Homo sapiens: one gene and its partners. The protein of the gene in region 3 interacts with the protein of the main gene of each other region in a pairwise test. Each region holds a gene or a part of one and is shown on either strand. Other genes may lie near its edges. The genes, in order: SCAMP2, GABPB2, FLNA, ZNF664-RFLNA, ITGB1BP2, PHLDB2 and CRLF3.

Region 1 (3,500 bases), on a different chromosome or scaffold from region 3:
TGAACCTGGGAGGCGGAGGTTGCAGTGAGCCGAGACTGCGCCATTGCACTCCAGCCTGGGTAACAGACTGAGATTCTGTCTCAAAAAAACAAAACAGGCTGGGCACGGTGGTTCACACTCGTAATCCCAGCACTTTGGGAGGCCGAGACAGGTGGATCACTTGAGGTCACAAGTTCAAGACCAGCCTGGCCAACATGGGGAAACCCCATCGCTACTAAAAATACAAAAATTAGCCAGGTGTGATTGTGTGTGCCTGTAAGCCCAGCTACTCCGGAGGCTGAGGCAGGAGAATCATTTGAACCCAGGAGGAGGAGGTTGCAGTGAGCCGAGATCGCATCATTGCACTCCAGCCTGGGTGACAGAGCGAGACTCCCTCTCAAAACAAAAACAATAGAACTTGAGGATACGTGGTAACAAAGAACAATGAGAAAAAAACAAAACCTGTACATCTGACTGGAAGAAAAAAATATTTGGGAAACAGGGGACACCAGACAAAACTCTCTCACGAGCTGAGGACTTCCATCTCTGTGTCCTTGAGGGCTAGATCACAGTGAGGGTTCAGGGCCTCCAGTGGTACAGGGATGGTTCAGCCACTACCCTAATCCCTCTTCCCAGGGCCTGCTGGGCTCCCAGCCCTGAAAGCATAAACCCTGAGGTACAATTCCAGAACCCCTGGGGGTCTGTAAGGTGTATCCAGCTATGTTCCCAGTATCTAGCTTAGGTGTTGGCAGTCTTTATTGGGAAGCATCAATAGTCATGGAGAAAGAGCCCTGGAGAGCACTCATCTGATACTACCAGAGAAGCACACCTTAGAGCCTCAGAAGGGAGTTCCCAAAGAGCGTCCCCTCCCTCTTCCCAGTAACGGCATCAGCCAGACTGGGAGCAGTGGGATGGGAGGTCCCTTCTCTAGGTCTCCTGTGCCTGGTCCAAGGACAGGGCCCAGAGCAGACCTCAGGTACAGAAACTGAGGAACGGGGCCCCCAATCTCTGCTCTGGGTGGGAACAGAGGAACAGAATGTAGGGAAAGTGGATTTCCCTACATTCTATTCTGCTCTAAGACTCAGATGGGGTCCCAGGGCCTATAGCCCTTAGCCTGCTACCTGGGATGCCAGCCATAAAGTCTCACCCCTTGCCCCGGCCTCACTCACCTAAAGGCCTTATAGATGGGTCGGTACCAACAAAGGAAGGCACAGGGAGTGAAGATCAGAAACCACAGGATGGAGAGGCCAAAGTCCACTCCCTTGGAGCTGTTGCCCGAGAACCAGGCCAGGCAGGCAAGCAGGTTCAGAAACAGAGTCACTGAATGCACTGGGGAAGGGGACAGGACAGAGTTATGACTTGTGCCACAGTGGCTGAGGGGCTCCAATGTGGCAGCCACTCCCTAGGAGAGGTGAGGTTCATGCTGCGAAGGCAGCTGCTGAAACAGAGGAGCCCGCTCTGTACCTAGGCAGGGATAGTTCCCATATCCTGGTTTTCTGGGACCTCAAAACCAGGGATCAAACTACGTTCCTGAGAGGTGATGGGACAGCCCGGGTATCTGAGGGGTGTGGAGGGAGGATGCAGACCCAGGGCTGGTCCTTGGGGAAGGAAGTCTTTCTCTTAGCAATGCTTTTCCCTGGCCCTGGATGGCCCCTGATGGAGCTGCAGGGGGAGTCTCCTTCCTCACCCCTCAGAGTTCACAGGCCTGTGGGCAGGGAAGGCCTTCACCTAAGGAGGGCCTTTTAGTGCAGTGAGCTCTGAAGGAACTTGGAAGCCTCTAGTTAGTCCCACCCTCCCTGATCGGTGGTCTGGACTGCCCCTTTCAAGGAGGTTTCCAGACAGGGGGCAGCCTGTGGGCAGAGGCATCTCCCCAACCCAGCCCAGGCACTGAGGAAGGCTGGAGTCTGCTGAAAGCCTGTATACCAGGGAGGAGCAGCCAGGACCAAGATGGGGCTCTCAAGTCACACCCAATTCGCCCTTGCGCTTGGAAGGCAGGAGTGGGACTCACACATCCACAGATAGTAGAGCATCTTGCATATCCGCTGGTAGTCGGCAGGGATCTCTGTGGAGAAATCCTGATAGAAGCAGGGCTTCACAGGGCACCACGAGGGCAGAGGGGGCCAGTTGTTCTGTCTCACTGGGTAGGGCAAAAAGAGTGACGAGGTAAGGGCCCAGCCTCAGAAGGGGCATCAAGGTGCATGCACGCCAGCATAGTGTATGGGCCAAACCAGGGTTCCCAGAGGGGCTCCAGCAAGCGGGGCTTGGAGTCTGCATGGAGCATGGAGTGGGACAGAACAGGATAATGGAACCCAAAGAGATACCAACAAGCTCACATGGAGATAAAAGACCCCAAATGCACTGGGAAATACAGACAGCTAAATGGCCTAAGTGATTATTTTTATTAACAAGCAGCCCATAAGTGTGAGAACTCAGTTCATCATCATTAGCAAGGAATTGTGGGACCAAAGCCCCTATGCTATCAAAGAATCAAGGAATTTGAGAGCTAGGAAGGAGTGCAGAAGTAATCTACAGCCATTACAACTACACTGCAGGTCTCCTGACTTGCAACTTACTGCTCTTCCCAGGACCAGCATCCTGTGATGAGAAGAGCCCCACAAAACTCTAAGGCAGCTCAGGGTGAATGCTGGGAGGCCCTCCGCACAGGTTTCAGGACACTCTTCTATGCCAGGCAGGGCAGCCCCAGGCCCCAGCAGCCTCCCTTACCATGCAAGTTGGCTACAGTGTTCTGCAGCTCCCGCTCCTTGCGTTCCAGCTCGGCAGCTTTCCTGTCCAGTTCTTCCTGCTGCCGGAGCAGGCCTGCCTGGGCTGCAGACACCACGGCCTGGAGAGAACAGGGGAGGTACAGGGACAGCCAGACACAACAAACAGAAACAGTGTCAGCCTGGGTAGGCAGGCAGAGAGGCCTTGCCCCAGGCAGGGACAGCCATCAAGGAGTCCCAGAAGCAGTCCCCGCCCCACAGAGTGTCTTAGGTACCAGAGACCACCTTAGAGAGGCCAACCTGTCTTCCACTGCCCCCACACCTTCCTGACCCCTTGGCCATGACTAAGCTGTCCTCTCCCCTCATCCCTAAGCTTGAGTTGGGAAAACTACCCCCATTGGCTTCTCCACCTCTTCCCCATACTGGGTCAAGGCAGCGCTCAGTGATTGTGACCTTTGGGAAAAAGACCTCACAAGAAACTAAACTATAATAAGAAACCCACAGACCCAAGCCTCATTTGAAGAGCCTGGTGGATGTGTGAGAAGGAAAACAGTGCAAGCCTGCTAACAGTGAGTGGAAAGGGGAGACACGTGAAGGCAGATGGCGTGTGCCTGAGCCTCAGGATCTGTACAAGCACCCTGCCCCATGGCCTGCCCCCAGGAGCTGCCTCCTGAGGTCCCCCTAAACTGCAATTGGCTACACCCCAGGACAGCCCCTTAGGTGTGGCCCTGCCCTGCCTGGCTTTAGTGGCATGCAGAGTCCACACTTATCTCCTCTCCAGGCGGGGTAGAGCCTCTGAGT
Region 2 (3,282 bases), on a different chromosome or scaffold from region 3:
GGCTGAGAGCGGTGGATAAGGAAAAGGCAATGGCCATGCATGGGTTAGTAGATCTATACCCCTCCCCCTTCAGTTAGCTCAGTTGGACAGGGAAAATGAGCTCTGTGGTTCACCTGTCATTAGAGAATAGATACAAATTTGGCCGGGCTCGGTGGCTCACGCCTGTAATCCCAGCACTTTGGGAGGCCGAGGCGGGCGGATCACGAGGTCAGGAGATCGAGACCATCCCGGCTAAAACGGTGAAACCCCGTCTCTACTAAAAATACAAAAAAATTAGCCGGACGTAGTGGCGGGCGCCTGTAGTCCCAGCTACTTGGGAGGCTGACGCAGGAGAATGGCGTGAACCCGGGAGGCGGAGCTTGCAGTGAGCCGAGATCCCGCCACTGCACTCCAGCCTGGGCGACAGAGCGAGACTCCGTCTCAAAAAAAAAAAAAAAAAAGAGAATAGATACAAATTTTGCCCAGGAGATGAAAACAAATTCAATGACACCCTGAAATGGTCGGCTTTGACATTTTATTGAGAAACATTTTTATTTTAAATGATAGTACAAAAACTGTATATATAATATAGATCTGTATAAGTATATATACATACAAATGCTCATACACACATATACACACAAACTTGCTCATCAGAATAAAACCCTAAATAAAGAAGTATATTTAAGTTTTTCTAAAAATACGCTGTACATAAAGCTGTCAGACAACCTGAAAAACTGAGGACATTGTGAGAACAGTCTGGGCGCATCCCCCCACACACACACCTGCCGCAGTACACACACAAATGGCCTTGACAGAAGGACAGCACATGGGGCAAGGTCAGGGAGAGAGCTGCTACCATCATTGTTGCTAGAACAAGATGTCTAAAGCCAACTAGAAAGCACAGGATATAGAAGGTGACCTAGATTAACTTTCAGAAACAAACCACCTCAGAATAAACAAAAAATATGTGGTAGGGAAGGAGGGGAACGGAGAGAGAAAAGACAAGGCCCAGAGATTAGAAATGACCTACTAACTAAATTCGAATGCCTGGGAAAGCCTCAATGAGATAGGAACAATGGAATCACAAAAGCAGAAAAGGTAGGAGGAGGGGGAGATAGGGAATCACAATTTCCTGTCACTAACATGCCAAACTGCTACTGTAGAGTCTAGGAATGTCACCTCACCCCCTAATACTAAAGAGGCTAAAAAATAAGACAAAAATTTAAAAAGGGCAGCATCAGAGACTTAAAAAAAATTGGCATAGGAAATAATAGTACTACTCAGAAGGGGTAGTACTTCTGAGATATAGTCACCACATAAAATAGAGACAGATAAGAGCCTAGAGTGCATACAGGTGGTCATCACATATAGTCCATTCTGAAGTTCCTTTTCTAGCTATCCAGAGATGGGTTTGCACAAGGAGTAGAGAAGAGGAAGCCTTCTCTAATAAATTAGGACAAAAACTGATTCCCACTCCATATTAAACTTTCAGGAAGAGTTCAGTAAATGCATCAAATTTTCCAGCTCTGGAGGTCTGTAATGATAGGAGAGAGCCACACAAGCTTTCTTAAAATGGTCATCATCATACTGGTGAGAAAAAAAAAAAAAAAAAGAGGCTGGGCGTGGTGGCTCACACCTGTAATCCCAGCACTTTGGGAGGCCAAGGAGGGTGGATCACGAGGTCAGGAGTTCGAGACCAGCCTGGCCAATATGGTGAAATCCCGTCTGTACTAAAAATACAAAAATTAGCGCGTGCCTGTAATCCCAGCTACTTCAGAGGCTGAGGCAGAAGAATCGCTTGAACCCGGGAGACAGAGGTTGCAATGAGCCAAGATCATGCCACTGCGCTCCAGCCTGGGTGACAGAGAGAGACTCTGTTTAAAAAAAAAAAAAGAAAAGAAAAAAGAAAAAAAAATCATTTCTCAAACTGATATTTCTTTTTTTCCTTTTTCTTTCTTTTTTTTTTTTTTGTGAGCCACCGCGCCCGGCCTCTTTTTTTTTTTTTTTTTTCTCACCAGTATGATGATGCGCCACCACCCCCGGCTAATTTTTGTATTTTTAGTAGAGACTGAGTTTCACCACGCTGGCCTGGCCTCAAGTGATCCTCCCATCTCGGCCTCCCAAAGTGCTGGGATTACAGGCGTGAGCCACCATGTCTGGCCAGCAGCTTTACTTATTTTATTTTATTTTATTTTATTTTATTTTTTGAGACCGAGTCTCATTCTGTTGCCCAGGCGATCTGTTGCAGTGGGGCGATCTCAGCTCACTGCAAGCTCTGCCTCCTGGGTTCACGTCATTCTCCTGCCTCAGCCTCCCGAGTAGCTGGGACTACAGGCACCCACCACCACGCCCGGCTAATTTTTTGTATTTTTAGTAGGGCCAGGGTTTCACTGTGTTAGCCAGGATGGTCTCAATCTCCTGACCTCGTGATCCACCTGCCTTGGCCTCCCAAAGTGCTGAGGTTACAGGCGTGAGCCACTGTGCCCGGCCAGCAGCTTTATTTTAAAGTAGACAACCATCCTAAGCTCGAAGTTTCTCTTGCTCAAGCACCAATTCTGATCCATTTGTCTGTTTTTTCTTTCTTTCCTTCTTTTTTTTTTTTTTTTGAGACAGAGTCTCGCTCTATTGCCCAGGCTGGAGTGCAGTGGCACAATCTCAGCTCACTGTAAACTCCACCTTTTGGGTTCAAGCAATTCTCCTGTTTCAGCCTCCAGAGTAGCTGGGACTACAGGCGTATGCCATCATGCCCAACTAATTTTTGTATTTTGGTAGAGACAGGGTTTTGCCATGTCGGCCAGGCTGGTCTCGAACTCCTCACCTCAAGTGATCTACCCACCTCAGCCTCTCAAAGTGCTGGGATTACAGGCGTGAGCCACCGTGCCCAGCCATTTTTGTCTGCTATTTGATTCTTAATAATCCAACCTTGCCAATAAACAGTTGGAATCCTCTAACCCAGAAGATCTAAGCAATATTTCCCCAACTTCCATGACTAATCCAGAAAGATATGCAAAGTCATGAAATGGTATTGCCATTAATGTATTCAATATTTAATTTCTAACTACTTCAAAGCATCCTCACCTGCCATTCTCTCCATGGCAATACAATTGGAGATCAAATCCTATTTCCCTTATCTGGGATGCCAAGAGGACCGTTCCGAGTAAATAAAAATCAATGCCTTTTTCTTACTTATTTTCAGATACCTCCATTCTCTCCCTCTCTACCCTAGCCTCTCCTCTAACAAACTGCCCTATCTCAGAGACCCATCATAAAAAATGACTTGGCCTGTATTAGAGATTTTGG
Region 3 (3,953 bases):
CATCCCCGTCCGCCGGCCCGGCAGCGGCGGGAAGGGGCCAACCCTAAGAGCGAACCCCTGGAGAGCGGCAGCCCCGGACCAGGCACTGCCGAGGGCGCTTTGTGTGCTCATCACCTGGGAAGCGGCTGCAGGGCAAGGCCTGCGCCTACGCGGTCCCCGCAGACCCCCTGCCACGGGCCCGCCTTCCCAGTCCGTAGGGCCCTCGCCCGCGCACCTGTGCCCGCTGCTTCCCACCGCCTCCCTCTCTGCTTCCCTCCACCCGGGAGGATATGGGGCACTGGGCCAGGAGGCCGCCGGCACTCCAGGAGCAAGCAGCCTTCGAAGGGGTCCGGGCATGCCCACGGGCACGCCAGTGGGCGCGGGCAGAGGGCGCCGTGCGATGCATGCAGAGACGTGTGCCCGCCTAACCCTTCATGCCAGTTCACCCGGGGCACTGGGGGGAGCTGAAGCGGGGGGTCCTCTCCTGTCGGAAAGTCCCCTCAGCCCAGCGTGGCCAGGGCAGGGGGCAAACACGGGAGTGGCATTCCAGACCCAGAGGGGCCTGCTCAGAGGTTCCCATAAGACTTGTCAGGCTCTGAGCACCTGGGTCTGGGTGGGCTTCAGGTGTGGTGGCAGGTGCAGAGGAGGCCTGAGGACAGGGATCAGGGGCCTGGGGGGTTGTGTCCCCAGAGCTGTGGGGGCTCTTCACTCAAAATTTTCTGGTAGATAACTCTGGAGATGGTGCAGTGGCTGCTGTGCCGAGATGTAGACTGGGACCAGGGGACGGCTGGGGACGCTCACTGCTACTATCTTCAGTCAGAAGCCAGCCTGCCTATGGCTTCCTCCCCATTGTGCACTCCCCTCCCTCTCAGTCCTCGGTACCTCCCCTCTCCAGAATGTTTCCTCCTCTGAGTGTTTTTTTTTTTTTTCTAGGAAGGCAGGTATCTGTCCCTCCTGTTCAATTCTAGTAATAATTAATTTATCTGCTAAAGACCAGTGAGAGATGGAGGCCCTGGGTTGGCCAGCACGTCATGCCCAAATATGGTTGACTCTCCTGTAGCCCTGGGTGTCTACATGACACGTGGTGGGGCTGTGATCCGCCCAGCACATTCACTTCGGGGCAGCCTGTGGCCCCACTGGTTTTTCCCACTAGTAGTGGTGTTAGGGGGTGCAAATGGCATTTTCCAGTACTGAGGCCAACCCCTGTATATTGTCCCCTCTCCTGACCACTTTGAGACACACCTGCACCAAGTGCGCCTGGGCGTCTGGGAGCTGGGGTGGAGGTGGGAGGGAGGGCTGGGAAGGGGGAACCCATACAGACCCCTCCCTGCACGGGCCCCATTCAAGACGGGCTTGAAGTTGTCCTTCTGGTCCCCCTGCCCCACTGGAAAGCAAGTTCCCAGGCACGGAATTCCATCAATAATTGACTCTCTCTCCACTAAGGGCCATTGAGCTGGGTTGTCTGGGTTCATTCCTTAATCTTCAGAGCTCAGGGAAACTGAGTCAGAGTGACCAGTGGTCAATTCCAGCAGAAAGAGTGTCAGGAGGTGGGTGCCGTGTCTTCCAGCCCTAGCTTTTCCCTATTTAGAGGAAACAAGGAATGGGCGTGTAGAGGGTTCTTGTCCCTAGAACATAGTATCAACCGCCAGATGTCGCCCGATCCCAAAGCCACCAGATCGGGCAGTCCTGGGAAGCCAAAATCCAGCTCTTTCATATTTTCCCTTATTTGGAGTAGATTCTTGGATGTTAGGCACACCCCGCCCACCACACCACCCCTGGCCCTCAGACCCCAGGCCAGACCCTCCCACTGGGAGGTATAGCCCAAGCCCAGGAGCTGTTCAGCTGGGATCCCTAAGGAGCTGTTTCCAGGCCTGCGTAGCCAGGGGGCGCAGGAGGGAAGGAAGCCGCAGACTGGCAAGGTGAGAAGAGACCTGTGCTGGCAAGTCCAGGTGCGGCAGGTGAGGTCGCCCATTCCCAAGCTCCCACCTTGACGGTGCACTCGGAGCACTTACAAATGGGTCTGCCAGTGGATTTTAACCTATTTTGCCTGGCCCCAGGTGGCACGGGAATCTGGGGACATTGTTGGTTATATCCTGGCTGGCAGTGCGCATCCAACTCAGAGCCAACCTGGCATAGGGCCCAGGGCCCAACCAAGGAACCTGGCCTGGTCTCATCCTCACCATGGCCCCCATGGAGTAGAGCAGCCCCAGAACCAGCTCCCCTGTGCCCAAAGCAGCTGGTGCCCTGTGGACTCGAGCCAGCAAGGGACACGCTGTCCCCCTCCCAGTGGGCACACTGGCTGAGAAGTGTCCTTCCAGGTGGCCACTCGCCCTGAGTCCACACAAGTTCCTGGTGTCAGGGCCCTTCTCTCTCAGGCATGCAGTGGTCCGTTCATGGGCAAGTGCCCAGACACCCTCTCTCTCTCGGGGACCCCCCATGGCCTCAGGCTCCCACATTCGTGGGCACAGACATGGCTCGTGGGTCAACTAGGGAAGCTATTCTCTGGACACTCACTCCCAGATGCCAGGGGAGCCTCCATCGGCTCACGCATCCCAGCTGAACCTGGCCCGGACCTGGGCGCGAGCTGGCGCCTGCGTTTTCCGGCCTCTCTGCCCGCCTTCTCCAACCCCGCCCCCGGCCGACGAGGAGCGCGGCGACCCTACGGCGCGAAGCCGGGCCGCGGAGACCTCACCTGCTGTTCCTGAGAGCGACCGGTGACCGATGACCGCGGGGTGGCGCCCGGATCGCCTTCGCGCCCGCGCCCGCGCCAGGCGCCTCGGGGATTCTGTCGGCGTCCGCTGCGCGCGACGCGCCTCCACGCGAATGGGCCGCCGCCGCCCGCCTTCTTGTTGGCCGCACCCCCGCCCCGCGCCCGCCCCGCGCCCGGCCCGGCCCGGCGAGAAAGCCTTAATTGGTAAAATTGCCCAGGAGCCCGGGACGGGTGCGTGGGGGGCGGGGGTGCGGGGGCACGCCGTGAGCTCCAGCGACCCGCCGCCGGGCGACGCCGCCCCCCGAGATGAGCTCACCGCCGGCGAGGGCCGCCAGGCCCTGGGGGAGGGAGGGCTTCGTGGGGGAGTCGCCTCCAGCGCCCACAGGGACTGCAGGGCTCGTGTCTAGGCCCAATCACAAGGATCCTGCGTGTCTGAGTCTGGGGGAGCCAAGCGCACCCCAGGTGGAAAGGCCGAGGCCCAAGGCCACCTTCTCCAAGGAGCCACCCACAGTCACAGCCCCTGGTGTCTGTCCCAAGCCGGGATTGTTTCCTGGGGTGGGGGCAACAGGTCGTTGCAGGTGTTGGCTGGGCGCCTACGTCAGGCAGGGCCCCGGGACGGGACTGCAGGGCTCCGAGCCCTGGGATGAACCTGACTGCCATGGATCAGGCGCTGCCAGGTCTGGCCTGGGGTGGGCAGCAGAAACAGGATCGCTCAGGGGGACGAGAAAGTTAAGTTTGTTTAGTATTAAGAAGATTCTGATCTTAAAGAAAACATTGGCCGGGCATGGTGGCTCATGCCTATAATCCTAGCACTGTGGGAAGCTGAGGCAGGTGGATTAATTGAGCCCGGGAGTTTGAGACCAACCTGGGCAACACAGCAAGACACTATCTCTACCAAAAATATAAAAATTAGCTGGGCGTGGTGACGTGCACCGGTAGTCTCAGCTGCTCAGGAGACAGATGGGAGGATCGTTTAAGCCCGGGAGTTTGAGGCTGCAGTGAGCTATAATTTCACCACTACACTCCAGCCTGGGTCACACAGTGAAACCCTGTCACTAAACATAAAAAAAAAGGCCAGGTGCGGTGGTTCATGCCTGTAATCCCAGCACTTTGGGAGGCCGAAGTGGGTGGATCACGAGGTCAGGAGTTCAAGAACAGCCTGGCCAAGATGGTGAAACCCCGTCTCTACTAAAAATATAAAAACTAGCCGGGCGCAGTGGCAGGCGCCTGTAATCCCAGCTACTCGGGAGGCTGAGGCGGGAAA
Region 4 (3,500 bases), on a different chromosome or scaffold from region 3:
GTTGCCTAGGCTGGAGTGCAGTGGTACGGAATGTGGTTCAGTGTAGCCTCAGCCTCCTGGGCTCAAGTGATCTGCCTCAGCCTCTCAAGTAGCTGGGACCACACACACACACACACACCACTACACCTGGCTGATTTTTAAATTTTTTTTGTAGAGACGGAGTCTCACCACGTTACCCAGGCCAGTCTTGAACTCCTGGCCTCAAGTGATCCTCCCGCCTTGGCCTCCCAAAGTGTTGGGATTACAGGCATGAGCCACCATGTCTAGCCTATTAGTTTTTTATATAGAGAGGTAGATTTGTATGTACTGACATAGCCTGTATGGATGTCTAGAATATACTGTTGAGCCAAAAAAGCAAGCTTAATCTCATTTTTTGTAAGATACAAAACAAAATAATGAAGGGTGAGTGTGTGTATATATATATATTCTGAATAAGAATTAGAAAAAGACTAGAATACCTGAAAACATTTAATTCTGATTACTTCATGGGAAAAGCCTAGGGGAGACTGGTTTTTCATATCACATGTGTTTGCATTGCTTCAGTTTTTTTTACAATGGGCATTTACTTTTGTAAGGAAGATGTTACAATTTCTCACCAATTTCATGAAGGTCTAGATTTAGACAAAAATATACAGTGCCTAGTACCTAAAAGGATGTGGTAAAAATGACACACTCTTATGTTACATTGGCCATATGTGTCAAGAGTCTTAAAATTATTTACATTTCTTGATGGTCTAGGAACCATCAAAAGAATATTTTTAAATACAGAGAAAAGCTTTCTGCACAAAATATGTATATTGTAGAATTATATTTATGGGCACAGTTTGCAGAATGGTTATGATACATCCCCTATATCATATATTTAGTGGCAAATAACATTGCCATTAAAAACGTTTATGAAGAAAATATATTAAAATGCTTATGATAGTGTTAAGTGGAAGGAAATCAGGATACACAATTGTATACCTGATATGATGAAAACGCCCCAAAAAAAGTCCCAGCAGCCTTCCAGTAAAACCTATGAATGGCAAAAATATGTAGAAGAAATTAGATGGAAATCTTAAGAATTGTGGAATTCGGTAGGATGTCGGGTGATTTAAATAATCTTTTTTGTATTTGCCAAGATTACATGTACCTGTATTACATGTATGATGGAACATTTGATTTAACAAAGTATATCTGGGACATGATAGCTACATGGCAAATAGACATGAGCACTTTTTTTTTTGGTTAAAGCCAATGAATAAATTTGGAATTTACACTGAAAATGATTGGGACCCATTGAAAACTTGTGAGTAGGGTAAGAACAATCCATTTTGCATTTTAGAAGGTTACATTAGAGTAGATAATGGATTAGAGGGAAGCAAGACTGGAGGCTTTTGTAGAATTCCAGGGAAGATGATGGTGGCTTGAGTTAAGTTGAGACAATGCAGGTACACAGTGGAGAGTTTCCAGAGGTATTTGGAAGAGAGTGGCTAGACCTTTGTGATGGGGGGAAGTCAATGATATTGACTTGGGCAATTGAGGGGAGAGTGGACTCATTTACTATAGTTGGGAATTGGCTATGGTTTGAATATTTGTCCCCTCCAAAACTCATGTTGAAACTTAATCCCCAATGTGACAGTGTTGAGAGGTGGGGCCTTTCAGAGGTTTGGCTCATGAGGGCAGAGCCATTCATAGATTAATGGGTTGTCATGGGAGGGGACCTGGGGGCTTTATAAAAAGAAAAGAGATCTGAGACAGCATGTTAACATGCTCAGCCCCCTCTCATCGTGTGATGCCCTGTGCCGGCTCAGGGCTCTTTGGAGAGTCCCCACCAGCAGGAGAGCTGTCACCAGATGTGGTCCTGGGCTTTTTCAGCCTCCATAACTGTAAGAGATAAATTTCTTCATAAATTATCCAGTTTCAGGTATTCTCTTGTAAGCAATAGAAAACAGATTAAGACAGGAATATAGTAGGCTTTGGTGAGGAAGTGACTGATTCAGTTTTGGATGTACTTGAGTTTGAAGGTCTTATAGGACACATAGGTGTGTCACGAAGAGGATTTACAAAGAATAATTTTACAGTACACATGTTTTGCTGTAAGAATGACTAGATACTATACATAGCTATGGTATTAAAATCAATATTTCTACATGGTAAATTTTTCTTGCAATATAGTTGTACTTCTGTAAATTGGGGCATATCTGTCTAGATAGACTGGACCATTGATATTTTTCACATAGAATTATTTGAGACTGCATGACCTCGACTTCAGATAATACCATGATTGTCTTTGGGGTTCATTGGGTAGACTCTTGCCTCTCTGAGTGGGTGGTGGAGGTTCCTCTGGGCATTAGTGGTCCTTTTGTCAGTCATCCTGTTGTCAGAGTACACCTGACTTCTGGGAGTGATTTCTCTTCATCTTGGTAAACTGGTCCCTTCCACGTAGGGGCAGGCCAGGAAATAGGCAGAGTGGTGCCCTTTCATCCATGTGTGAGTGCCCACCTGGCTGTTAATAGTATGGCTGGAGCATGGGTACCTTGAAGGACAAGTGGAGAAAAGGTAGCGGAGAAAGTGCCTGCCAAGGTAACAGAAGTCATTAGAGAGGAAGGTAGATGTCTTCATCAGAGGTTGGGGCCCAGTCGCTGGGAAGTTGGTGGCAGTCAGTGTGGCTGTGCTCTTTGCCTTCATCTCCCAGGCTTCTCCTGCTCACTGTGTGTCTGCCCTATGCTTCTATGTGTGCCTGCCCTCCCCCTAATCTCTTCTCTCGCTTGGCAGTAAATAACACGTGACCCCAGGTGGTCACTCTGGAAGGCCATTCTGAAACTCTAACTTCTGCCAGCTCACATCACAGACCCAGTCTTTCCACTTCCCACTTCCCAATTCCAAATTCTCTAGAAGGACAATCTGATTGGCTTAGCTTGGGTTCCACGCTCACCGTATCGGTTTTACTGTTGCAGCGCTTACAGGAGCAGATTCATTTAGTGTGAGCCTGGTGGACTGGCTAGAAGGGAGTGCAGACGAGGACACTCAGGAGAGACGTCCTGGAAGTTAGAAAGTTTCAAGAATGGACAGGAGCAGTAGTTTCAAACGGCCTAGAGATGTAATAAAGGGATCAGGAGTGAATCTTAGATTTAGCAAATTGAAGTCTTTCAGCCCAGGTTGAAAGTTGTGTCTACTGGGCATGGTGGCTCATGCCTGTAATCCCAGCACTTTGAGGGGCCAAGGCAGGCAGATGGCTTGAGGCTGGGAGTTTGAGACCAGCCTGGGCAACATGGCAAAACCCCGTCTCTACCAAAAATACAAAAATTAGCCAGGCATGGTGGCACACACCTGTGGTTCCAGCTACTTAAGAGGCTGAGGTGGGAGCATCACTGGAAGGCAGGGCTGTAGTGAGCCATGATCACGCCACTGTACTCCAGCCTGGGTGACAGAGCGAGACCCTGTCTCAAAAAAATAAAAAAAGAAAGCAAGCAAGTTGTGCTACAGCTAATCCATGTGGGAGAGTCACAAGGTGG
Region 5 (4,181 bases), about 83 Mb from region 3:
TTAATCTTGATCATTCCGGTTTTTTTTTTTTTTGTCCATCTTGTTTCATTTGCTTGCCCCGCCCCCGAGACGGAGTCTTACTCTGTCGCCCAGGCTGGAGTGTAGTGGCATGATCTCGGCTCACTGCAATCTCTGCCTCCCGGGTTCAAGCTTGTCCAGGTTGATCTTGAACTCCTGACCTCGTGATCTACCCACCTCGGCCTCCCAAAATGCTGGGATTACAGGGGTGAGCCACCGTGCCCAACCTCACTTGCTTCTTATCCTTACACTCCCCCAGCCCCAGAGAAACTGCCACATACACCACAAAAACCAAACATCCCCCAATGACCTTAGCCCCATTGCTCCATTCACTCCCAGGTGAGAATTCAGGCAAACGTCCACAAAGGTCACAGGCAGCGTACATACGGTTCTGTTATACCCCATATATTACCCCTTCATGTCCTAAAGAAGACATTTTCTCTTAGAGATTTTCATTTTAGTGTATCTTTAAAAAAAAATCTTGTGTTAACTTGCCTCCATCTTTTTCTTGGGTGAGGACACCCAGGAATGACCCTTTTGTGTCTATGATGTTGCTGTTCACAGCTTTTCTTGATAGGCCTAGTACAATCTTGGGAACAGGGTTACTGTATACTGAAGGTCTGACAGTAGCTCTTAGACTCGCCTATCTTAGGTAGTCATGCTGTGCATTTTTTTTTTCATTGGTGTACTGTGTTTGATTTGTCTCATATATTTGGAGTTTTTCTGAAAAATGGAGCAGTAATGCAGCATCAACCTATTAAAATACATTTTAAGCCTTTTAATTTTCTGTGGTGTTTTTGAAGGGGAAAGGAGGGAGGGGAGTTATCTTAGGAGATGAGCAGTAGACTCTATAAAGGTAATCCTTTATGACCTTTGGATTACAGTATTGATCTAGACAAACATGGGGAGGAGGTGGGGATGAGGTGCATCAAATGGCTGGAGGGGTTGGCAAGGATTAGCGCTATTGATACTACATGGAAGTAATGATGGAGGAAAGCTGCCCCTCTGAAAGAGGAAGAAAATGGGCTTAATCCTCATCGAGCTGGGGGCGCGGGGGGGGTCTCAAAATTGGTATTTGTTTCTTAGCAGCTGCTGCTGTGTCCAAGGCTTGGAATTGCTGTGGTGAATCTAAAACTGTCTCAGTAGTGGTGAGCTGACCTCACCCAAGTTCAAAGCCCTACTCTGCCTGATCCTTTTTTCCTGAGCCTCAGAGCTAAAATGCCCCCGAGCTCTTTCCTATTGGCTGGAAAGACGAATTGAAGTTCCCTTGCCCATGTTAGGAGGTGTACGCCTCCTGAACTAAAGATAGAAACAGCTGGCCCTTCCAGGCAGCTAAAAGCCTCCAGACTAAGAGGTGTTCCCCATTCGGCAGCCAGACTCCTTGAAATACCCTTTCAGTAATCATTCAACCAACGCTTCCATGTCTCTACTCTGTCGTAACAAAGGCTGTGGGCAGCACTTTGACCCTAATACCAACCTTCCTGGTGAGTAAAGAATCCTGACCTGGCCAGGGGCTCTGTGTGGGTGTTGGGGACTGGTCAGCTGGGGGGCAGTGTGTTTGAGGAGCGGGGAAAGAAACTACCTGCCCTAGTTTAATTGGTCTGAGTGATCTTACAGCCTTTGCTGGCTTTTTTTTTTTTCTTCACATTATATGGGAAGAAACCATAAATAGAAACCCGGGGAAGAGGTGAAAAATGATACTTGGTATAGTTATCTTCCCTTCCTTGATAACTTCTACTGATGTCCACAGATTCCTGTTGCCATCACCCTGGGGTCCCAATCTTCCATGATGCACTTAAGGTGAGGAGTAGGTGAGGGGGGTTAGCAAGAGCATTTCCCAGAAGAGATAATACCCAGGAAGCTAAGCTGATCTGGGTCTCTTGTTATCAGGGTTGGTCCTGCTGCCGAAAGCGAACTGTAGATTTCTCTGAGTTCTTAAACATCAAGGTAAATTATTTATGTACTTGGATTCTGCCCCCAATAGAAGGATTCTATCCCTAATCCTATCTCCTTATCTATACTAGGGCTGTACTATGGGACCACACTGTGCTGAGAAGCTTCCTGAGGCCCCTCAACCTGAAGGCCCTGCTACAAGCAGTTCACTTCAGGAGCAAAAACCTCTGAATGTGATTCCAAAGTCAGCAGAGACCTTGCGCCGGGAGAGGCCCAAGTAAAGAGGAGGAGGCCCCTGGACTTTTCTTATTTTCATGTAGCTTCCTAGGAGTGATTAATGGGTCATTGAGGACTGGGAACTAGGGACCAGGGATGTGAGGAGGGCCAGATGTCAGGGTTTGGATGGTGTATATCCTGTGCCTTAGGGGAAATTTGTGTCTGGAAATAACGCCCTTTCCTCTAAGGTGGTGTGGGATGATGGGATAGATACCTGAATCAACAGAGTAGATAGCCCCTCACAAATACATCCTTAGTGTATAACACAAAAGGGATTGTTGAGAATGACTTCTCTTTCTAGAAAAGAACTTTAAGATAAATCTCATATCAAGAAAAGGATGTATTGTATTATTGGCAGCCAGGAGACTTCCCAAATTTTGTGGGAATAATAAGAGCAACAGAAGGAAGTCATATTAGGTCCACGATTAGATAAAGAGGAAGAGGATATGACTCAGTTCTGCAGAGAAAAGTGGTTAGGTTTAGAGCAACTGAGTAGATGGGTAAGAGAAGTGCTGGGGATTTCTCTAGGGTTCAGGTATTTGGGATGTCCACAGAGATGAAAATTGGCAATGGGGTTGCTACCCAACCTCTCCAACTCTGCCTCACTTTCACCAGGCTTCTTTAATTCCATTACCATCGGTGGGAGTGTTGGAGCTAGCAATCATAGCTAATGGGTCAGAACTAAATCACCACCCTTAACCCCTAGGTCAGAGTTGCCTCTGAAGCTGCTGCCGCTAAATATATCCCAAGCCCTGGAAATGGCATTGGAACAGAAGGAATTAGACCAGGAACCTGGGGCAGGTAGGTGGGTCTTTAGTAGGATCAACTTCATAGACTGGAATTTAGTGGAAGTGGCAATTGAGTGGGGGGATGGATAAGTTCCTGACTCTGTTTCCCTTGCCCAGGACTTGACAGTCTGATCCGGACTGGTTCCAGCTGCCAGAACCCAGGATGTGATGCTGTGAGTGAGAGTTTTGAGGGGCTCAAGCATATGGCTGAGGGATGACTGGGTATAGATAGGCTGAGTAGGATATACCTTAGAATGACCTGGTTCTACTTTATCCTTCTTAGGTTTACCAAGGCCCTGAGAGTGATGCTACTCCATGTACCTACCACCCAGGAGCACCCCGATTCCATGAGGGGTGAGGGAGGGGACTGGGTGGGCTATGAGGCTATGAGACAGGTTTCTCCTAATATTTGGTCATAAGATAATATTGGGGGTGAGAGAATTCAGTTGAATTATCTTCCTACTTCAGGATGAAGTCTTGGAGCTGTTGTGGCATCCAGACCCTGGATTTTGGGGCATTCTTGGCACAACCAGGGTGCAGAGTCGGTAGACATGACTGGGGGAAGCAGGTAAGCCCCAGCTTTCCTGAACTCTTGATTAGAACCCAATCTCAGAGGTAAATTCTCCTCCCTCTCTGTACCACATAGCCAAGCTCCCTGTCTTCTCCCTTTAGTATAGACCAAATAAGATTCTGCTCCTTATCCCTCAACAGCCCAGAGGTTTTGCAATATGAGGTTGTGTTAATCTTTTTGAGACTCTCTGTCTCTTCTCCACGTGCATCATGAGAACTCCCCTTCAGTTAAGAATTTATTCTTACCACCTGCATTTCACATCTTCTCTTTAGCTCCCAGCATCTTGCCGCCATGATTGGCACCAGACAGATTCCTTAGTAGTGGTGACTGTATATGGCCAGATTCCACTTCCTGCGTTTAACTGGGTGAAGGCCAGTCAAACTGAGGTGAGCAATGATCTGATGTTGGATGGGAGGATAGTCAATTGGGTGATACTACAATCTCACAGGCAGAGTTGCCATTTGCTGTTAACCTGTAGGCTCCATAGTACCCTTAGAGGAAAGGAGAGTTATTAGGTCAGGGCTGTCTGGCCAACCTGTGGATCATACCTCTGACCTGGTTATCTGTCGTAATGACCTATTCTGACCTTCTGGGTTTGTTACTACCCCTGTAATTCTTTTCTCTCAGCTTCATGT
Region 6 (3,500 bases), on a different chromosome or scaffold from region 3:
AGTACTCAGTATGACTTTCCTCTTTATTACCATAAATAATCTCTGCAGACTGTTCATGGTCACAAAATGGCATTGTGTTTGGGCTTGCTTCATTGACAGAAATTCAGAAGATGTTTTAATTAGCATACAAAAGTCTTGTATATGGACAGCAAATAGAATGCTATACCATGCAGAGCAACTATTATTTATAAAGCCAGAATATTAACTTCTATCCGATAACTTATCAAGAAATCTGGGAGAGCATTTTTAATGGCTTCCATTACTCCGGACATCTTCCTTAAATGCTTCTATTTGCTCTTCTGTTCCAAGGATAGGGAACCAAATTCAAGAAATTCATCTCTGCTAGGTTTCATGTTCAGCATCTCTAAGTGTTGGTGAATTTCTCTTTCCTCCAGATTTTCCAAATCTGGTATGGTTCTTGGCAATCCAGGAAGTGACCTTCTGTACTGCCTGTAAGGTTGGGCCTGTTAAGTCATAAACAGTTTTGACTTCTTGGGAGAGCTTTGTGGATATTGCTCTAAATATGAAGTTATATATTTTTTCTTTAATAGTGGGCGTATCGTATTTGTTGAAATGAGGCTTATTTTTAAATTTGACACTCTAGACTTGATCTTGGTTGCATGGTCTATTTGTTTGACTACATTGTGGTAAAAGGGATGACGGATTCTTATCAAGCCTATGCAAAAGATGATATTGCCATTAAAAAGTAAAGTGACTCAAATTACTTCCTGAATTCTGAGAGATCAGTGAGAACAATTTACCATTAAAATAATATTTCATTTAGTTTGCAAAATCAGAGTTAGCTGAATAGAGGATTAGAGATAGAGCAGTATGAATGCCAAAGGGTTTTCCCCCTGAAAAAATAAAACATTAAAAATAATACTAGTAATATTCCAAAACATATATCCACATTTAGAAATTCATTTTTTATTATCAATTCAATCACTTCTATGTAATTAATTCTTATTCCTCTGTATCTTAGGCTCTTAATTTGGTTTCATGAAGTCATCTATTTCTAGACTAAAAAGTCCTGAAAATCTGATGTGGCTGCCTAGTACTATCTCATTTTTGTCTATGCAATTCTTTGAAATATTTAGGGTTAAGAATACCTGGTAAAGTTCTGTCCACAAGGTTCTAAAACTGTCTTTTCTTCATTAATGAGATATTGTATTTTGTAGACAAGCTCACAGAGAAAGTAGAGAACACTTGGTGAATGTAAGAGTTAAGTGGCTATGGTTATTTATGGTTAATTTAACAAACAATATCAGCATGAAGGAGAGTTAAAATCCTTTAAATCAGTTTTTTAAGAACATATTACAGAGAGTGAGGGCACTGACATATATTCAGGGTCTTTGTGTAAAGTACCCAATCTTTGAACATTACCTATAATATTAAAAATATTATTTTACCCGTACAAAATTATCTTAAGGAAGGGCAACTTTCTCATTTGATTTGAGAAATTTTTAGGGGCACAGTGAACAAACCTAATTATTTCTAGCCTCTTTCTTTTTGTAAAATTAAAGACAAATCTTTGTGATTGCCCAGAGGTTCTCTGGGAAAACCTAAAAGTAGTTCAGGAATAGATATCTTGGAAATTATATTTTTTTTCTGTATTTAGGGTCTGCCTGATCTTGAAGGCAAAATCAGAGATTTTGTCACTTGAGTAATAAAGAATTGTGTATACCTGAGAGTAGTGAATGTTTGTGGTTTGGCTATTTAAGAAAATGGCAATAGATTATTTTATGATGAGCAAGAAAGCTCAAATCATTCAAAAATGAAGAAAACTCTTTGCAAGAATATATTCCAATCATCGCAAAGCTCAGGAAGTTACACTTGTAAGGTACTAATCTCTGTTCTGTGGGCAGATTAGTACTGCCTTTTACAAGCATAGGCTGATTTCTCCAAGATCAGTCTGTCATTTCAATAGAGATAACTGCATTTTAGTTTTACATTAACAGGGTGCTTGTCATATATTACATTTTTAATGCATTACATTAAACATACTTTATGAATAATTGCATCAAAATCATGCAAACTTTGCCAAATTTTTAAAATTTTATTACTTCTTTATAGCCTTTTTATTTGCAAGCATTATAAACCAAGTTAAATCTAACTCCCTTTTTGCAAATCTGCAATTTTCTGTTTCCATCAACTTCTGCCCTTCATTGTTCTCTTCCACATTCTGGAACAACCAGACACTAAGACAAAAATACTTAAAGGTATCAGAAATTATGTTCAAGCTAACACATCACAGAACATAATTACTGATAATGTGAAAAGGTTTGTCACAGTTATAGTTCAGTTTAGATGAGCACAAAGTTTATATTTTTCTTAATTTTATAGAAGTAATCTTAGCTTATGTTTTTAGCAAACTAATATAAGACAGTTTAAAAGTTCAGGTAAACTAATCTCTTCATCATAAAACATTCAAGTTTTTTTAAAAAATGAGATTATACTTGTATTATACTGTACACTGATGAAACAAGGAAAAGATGTGTAGCTGTTTTGTTGTTGTTTTTAAAATGTATTTTTTTCTTAAAAGTTGTATTTACCCATGACACAGCCCCAGGAGATCCTGACAACATGTGTCCCTATAGCTGTTTTTAAAACCAAATTATCAAATCAGGTCTTTTTTTTTTTAAGAGAGCACAGTTAGGCTGGGTGAGGTGGCTTACACTTGTAATCCCAGCACTTTGGGAGGCCAAGGTGGGAGGATCACTTGAGTCCAGGAATTTGAGACCAGCCCGGGCAACATGGCAAAACCCTGTCTCTACAAAAAATACAAAAATTAGCTGGGTGTGGTGGTGCACACCTGTAGTCCCAGCTACTTGGGAGGCTGAGGTGGCAGTATTGATTGAGCTCAGGAGATTGAGGCTGCAATGAGCCATGATCATGCCACTGAACTCCAGCCCAGGTGGCAGAGTGAGACCCCATCATTAAAATAAGCACATTTAAAGCATTGGAATTTCACAAAATTTATTTCAAGAAAATAAATTCTTGAAATTCTGGGAATGTTAAATTTATCTAACTACTTGATAATCTCTATAAACCAATCAGAACAGTAGGCCTTCTCTGTTTAATTTATTATTATCCTCGGGAGTTAGAAAAATACTTCACCTACAAACAGTGTTCCCCACCCTGCCCCCAGGTAGAAAGACAGATGAAAGGTTTATGGCTTAAGTCCTACAGCTCCAATTACAGATCAAAAGTGAACACTAGAACACAAAATCTCACTTTTCCAGATCTCAAAAGACTGATTGCTTTTCCATCAGGCACAAAATATATTCCTGATCTGAGTACACAAATAGAAAAACAAATTATAAACAACAACAACAACAAACAAATACTCTGTCACCTCTCACCTGACCAAGACTGGATTCCGATTCTACCTGTCAACTCACCACGTGGTCAGATCGTGAAACCAGATTCCTAGTCATGGCTGCCACCAATGGAGATAACTGTCAGTTGTATGCAAACCAAAACCCCAGTGAAACTTGGCC
Region 7 (3,500 bases), on a different chromosome or scaffold from region 3:
TAATAAGGGCCTGAGAACAAAAGGAACTTGGGTCAAGCATTCACAATAAAATCCCATCTCAAGACTTAAAACTTAGAGGAGAGCTTGTTACACTAAGGTGAGTATGGTGAAAATCAGGCAAACTTTACTTCTCTAAGTCAAAACTGGTCTTTAGTTTCTACGAAGAGCTATTCAGAAACATGACTATAAAGAATACATCTCAGATAACATGAAAACAAGAAAAAAGAAACTTTTCCATTACAGAAAGAAATGGGTAGAGAAACAACATTAATTAGTGGTAGGGGAGGCTTGCTTTCAGTTTTACTTTAGAGAGTAGCATATACATAATATGTTTACAGTGTTGTCTCTTACAAAGACTTGCTGTTAATGATTCACAAAGGACAAAACAAATTCTTGGCCAGTAAATTTTTTTGCTTTTTTTTTTTTTTTTTTTTTTTTTTTCCAGACGGAATCTTGCACTGTCTCCCAGGCTGGAGTGCAGTGGCACGATCTCTGCTCACTGCAACCTCCGCCTCCAGGCTTCCAGTGATTCTCCTGCTTCAGCCTCCCGAGTAGCTGGGACTACAGGCGCACCTCACCACACCCAGCTAATTTTTAGTATTTTTAGTAGAGACGAGGTTTCACTATGTTGGCCAGGATGGTCTCGATCTCCTGACCTCGTGATCTGCCCACCTCGGCCTCCCAAAGTGCTGGGATAATATGCATGAGCCACAGTGCCCGGCCTATGCTTTTTTTCTTTTTTTTGAGACGGAGTCTCGCTCAGTCACCCAGGCTGGAGTACAGTGGCGCGATCTCAGCTCACTGTAACCTCTGCCTCCCAGGCTCAAGCAATTCTCATGCCTCAGCCTCCTGAGTGGCTGGGATTATAGGTGTGTGCCACCACACCCTGCTAATTTTTTTTTTCTTTTTGAGACGGGTCTTGCCCTGTTGCCAGGCTGAAGTGCAATGGCTCACTGCAACATTTGCCTCCCGGGTTCAAGTGATTCTCCTGCCTCACTCTCCCTAGTTGCTGGGATTACAGGTGTGCACTACCACATCCAGCTAATTTTTGTATTTTTAGTAAAGATGGGGTTTCACCATGTTGGCCAGGGTGGTGTCTTGATCTCCTAACCTTGTGATCCACCCACCTCAGCCTCCCGAAGTGCTGGGATTACAGGCGGGAGCCATTGCGCCTGTCCTAATATTTGTATTTTTAGTAAAGATGGGGTTTTACCAGGTTGACCAGGCTGGTCTCGAACTCCTGACCACAAGTGATCCAACCGCCTCGGCCTCCCAAAGTGCTGGGATTACAAGTGTGAGCCACTGCGTCCAGTCTCTTGGCCTCTAAAATTTTTTTTTTTTTTGAAACGGAGTCTTGCTGTGTCGCCCAGGCTGGAGTGCAGTGGCGTGATCTCGGCTCACTGCAAGCTCCGCCTCCCGGGTTCACGCCATTCTCCTGCCTCAGCCTCCCGAGTAGCTGGGACCACAGACACCCACCACCATGTCCGGCTAATTTTTTTATTTATAGTAGAGATGGGGTTTCACCATGTTAGCCAGGATGTTCTCAATCTCCTGACCTCGTGATCCGCCCGCCTCAGCCTCCCAAAGTGCTGGGATTACAAGTGTGAGCCACCGTGCCTGGCCAGGCCTCTAAATTTTTAAGATTTACTTTTTAATTTTGTGTGTGTGTTTGAGACACAGTTTCGCTCTTGTTGCCCAGGCTGGAGTGCAATGGCATGATCTCAGCTCACTGCAACCTCTGCCTCTTGGGTTCAAGCAATTCTCCTGCCTCAGCCTCCCAAGTAGCTGGGATTGCAGGCATATGTGCCACCATGCCCGGCTGATTTTGTATTTTTAGTAGAGATGGGGTTTCTCCATGTTGCTCAGGTTGGTCTCGAACTCCCGACCTCAGGTGATCCACCTGCCTCGGCCTACCAAAGTGCTGGGGTTACAGGTGTGAACCACTATGCCCAGCCTAAGATTGACTTTTGAGAGATACTCTACTTACCTCTACTTACCAAGAGGAAAAGAGATATAAACATATTAAATAACAAGCATTTTATATACATTTCCCAGTTAATCTACGTAATAACCCTGTGAATACAGATGAGAAAACTACAGCTACAGGAAATAAAGAAGCCTTCCCACAGTAACACTGCCTATAAATGACGGAATAAACTCAGGATGTTTTGAATTCAAAGCTTATGTATGCTCTATGCACTTCACTCTGCTTCCTGAGGCAGGTGAGATGTTTTAATATCTACTTGCCTGAATGTTAATGTCTGCCCACAGAAATAAGTCGGAGCTCTGGAGTAGAGAACACCCGATGATTCAGAATCGTTCCGAAGTGCTATATTTCTTCGACTGCTCAGACTGTACCCCTCAAAACCAGCTGTCCACTCTTTTTCAAAGCAAAGATATTGAAAACTGTTAGAATCTCTTGAGGGATATCTTCAATACAGACACGTTAAATAAAACATGGAAATGGGAGACTACTCTTAGGGGCCATGGTCAAGTTCAATAAAATAAAAGATTCCATTAACAGGGTATCATGATCAGTCCCACAAATTACAAAAGATTTTAGTATATTCCTGCATAATTTTGACATAATAAATCACACAAGTGTTATCTCTTATCTAATAAAATCATTGTACAAGCATAATTGCTTGAACTTATTCCAACCTGATAAAAATCTAATTAATAGGCCAGGCGCGGTGGCTCACGCCTGTAATCCCAGCACTTTGGGAGGCCGAGGCAAGAGGATTGCTTGAGCCCAGGAATTTGAGACCAGCCTGGGCAACATAGCAAGACCCAGTCTCTAGAAAAAAATAAAAAATTAGCCAGGTGTGGTGTGCATGCAGGTGGTCCCAGCTACTTGGGAGACTGAGGCAGAAGGATCTAGAGGTCAGGCTGCATGATTGCACCACCACACACCAGCCTGGGCGACAGAGTGAGACCTTGTCTCAAAAAAACTAACTAAATAACATTCAAATATAAAAAAAAGAATAAAAAGGAATATCAGTGCCCTACATAATATTTTCAATCTTTGGTTTTCAATGAGGCTAAAAATCTTGTCCAGCATTTTTTTTGGACTCTGAAGAACTGATGAAAACAAAAATCACATGAGGTAATCTGAGTAAAAGACATGGTGCATGTTGTTCTTATCAATTCAGGATCTATGCTTAGAATAGCTGGTTGTCAGTGTGCTGCCCTTAGCACAGAATACAGGTATTCTAATATATAGTTAGGCTTCAGGAGAGAAAAGGTTAGCAGCATACCATGAGGCACCAATGTGGAATGACCTATCTGGGGGACACTCCAAGGACTCCACTCCTGTCGGCCATCTCCTCGGGCGCAGACTCTGAACTGGTAATCAACGTTGGGGTCTATGTGCAATACTATGAATTCAGTTTCAGAACCTACATATACATCCTCAAAATGATTTGAAGTACATTTACGAAACTGGAGCCTGTAATCTTGGGCTGTAAAGTCATCATCCACCTAGGGAGAAAAGCTTTATG

Evidence for each region.
Region 1: the proteins of FLNA (region 3) and SCAMP2 interact in binary tests that used the Homo sapiens proteins (3 or more experiments, as listed by UniProt).
Region 2: the proteins of FLNA (region 3) and GABPB2 interact in binary tests that used the Homo sapiens proteins (3 or more experiments, as listed by UniProt).
Region 4: the proteins of FLNA (region 3) and ZNF664-RFLNA interact in binary tests that used the Homo sapiens proteins (3 or more experiments, as listed by UniProt).
Region 5: the proteins of FLNA (region 3) and ITGB1BP2 interact in binary tests that used the Homo sapiens proteins (3 or more experiments, as listed by UniProt).
Region 6: the proteins of FLNA (region 3) and PHLDB2 interact in binary tests that used the Homo sapiens proteins (3 or more experiments, as listed by UniProt).
Region 7: the proteins of FLNA (region 3) and CRLF3 interact in binary tests that used the Homo sapiens proteins (3 or more experiments, as listed by UniProt).

What each region holds. Positions count from the first base shown.
Region 1 is NC_000015.10:74,849,366-74,852,865, forward strand, and holds part of SCAMP2 (secretory carrier-associated membrane protein 2), read right to left. Parts: intron 2,822-3,500; coding exon 2,704-2,821; intron 2,117-2,703; coding exon 1,988-2,116; intron 1,309-1,987; coding exon 1,149-1,308; intron 1-1,148. UniProt on the Homo sapiens protein: Functions in post-Golgi recycling pathways. Acts as a recycling carrier to the cell surface.
Region 2 is NC_000001.11:151,122,761-151,126,042, reverse strand, and holds the end of GABPB2 (GA-binding protein subunit beta-2), read right to left. Parts: 3' UTR 1,857-3,282; coding exon of another isoform or gene 1,728-1,856; 3' UTR 501-1,727; downstream 1-500. UniProt on the Homo sapiens protein: May function as transcription factor capable of interacting with purine rich repeats (GA repeats).
Region 3 is NC_000023.11:154,371,835-154,375,787, forward strand, and holds the start of FLNA (filamin-A), read right to left. Parts: upstream 2,801-3,953; 5' UTR 2,672-2,800; intron 1-2,671. UniProt on the Homo sapiens protein: Promotes orthogonal branching of actin filaments and links actin filaments to membrane glycoproteins. Anchors various transmembrane proteins to the actin cytoskeleton and serves as a scaffold for a wide range of cytoplasmic signaling proteins.
Region 4 is NC_000012.12:123,979,715-123,983,214, forward strand, and holds part of ZNF664-RFLNA (refilin-A), read left to right. Parts: intron 1-3,500. UniProt on the Homo sapiens protein: Involved in the regulation of the perinuclear actin network and nuclear shape through interaction with filamins. Plays an essential role in actin cytoskeleton formation in developing cartilaginous cells.
Region 5 is NC_000023.11:71,300,369-71,304,549, forward strand, and holds the start of ITGB1BP2 (integrin beta-1-binding protein 2), read left to right. Parts: upstream 1-1,381; 5' UTR 1,382-1,438; coding exon 1,439-1,502; intron 1,503-1,768; coding exon 1,769-1,818; intron 1,819-1,908; coding exon 1,909-1,965; intron 1,966-2,042; coding exon 2,043-2,188; intron 2,189-2,893; coding exon 2,894-2,988; intron 2,989-3,092; coding exon 3,093-3,148; intron 3,149-3,258; coding exon 3,259-3,329; intron 3,330-3,443; coding exon 3,444-3,543; intron 3,544-3,818; coding exon 3,819-3,932; intron 3,933-4,173; coding exon 4,174-4,181. UniProt on the Homo sapiens protein: May play a role during maturation and/or organization of muscles cells.
Region 6 is NC_000003.12:111,886,765-111,890,264, forward strand, and holds part of PHLDB2 (pleckstrin homology-like domain family B member 2), read left to right. Parts: intron 1-3,500. UniProt on the Homo sapiens protein: Seems to be involved in the assembly of the postsynaptic apparatus. May play a role in acetyl-choline receptor (AChR) aggregation in the postsynaptic membrane.
Region 7 is NC_000017.11:30,790,193-30,793,692, forward strand, and holds part of CRLF3 (cytokine receptor-like factor 3), read right to left. Parts: intron 3,481-3,500; coding exon 3,258-3,480; intron 2,639-3,257; exon of another isoform or gene 2,381-2,638; coding exon 2,248-2,380; exon of another isoform or gene 446-2,247; intron 1-445. UniProt on the Homo sapiens protein: May play a role in the negative regulation of cell cycle progression.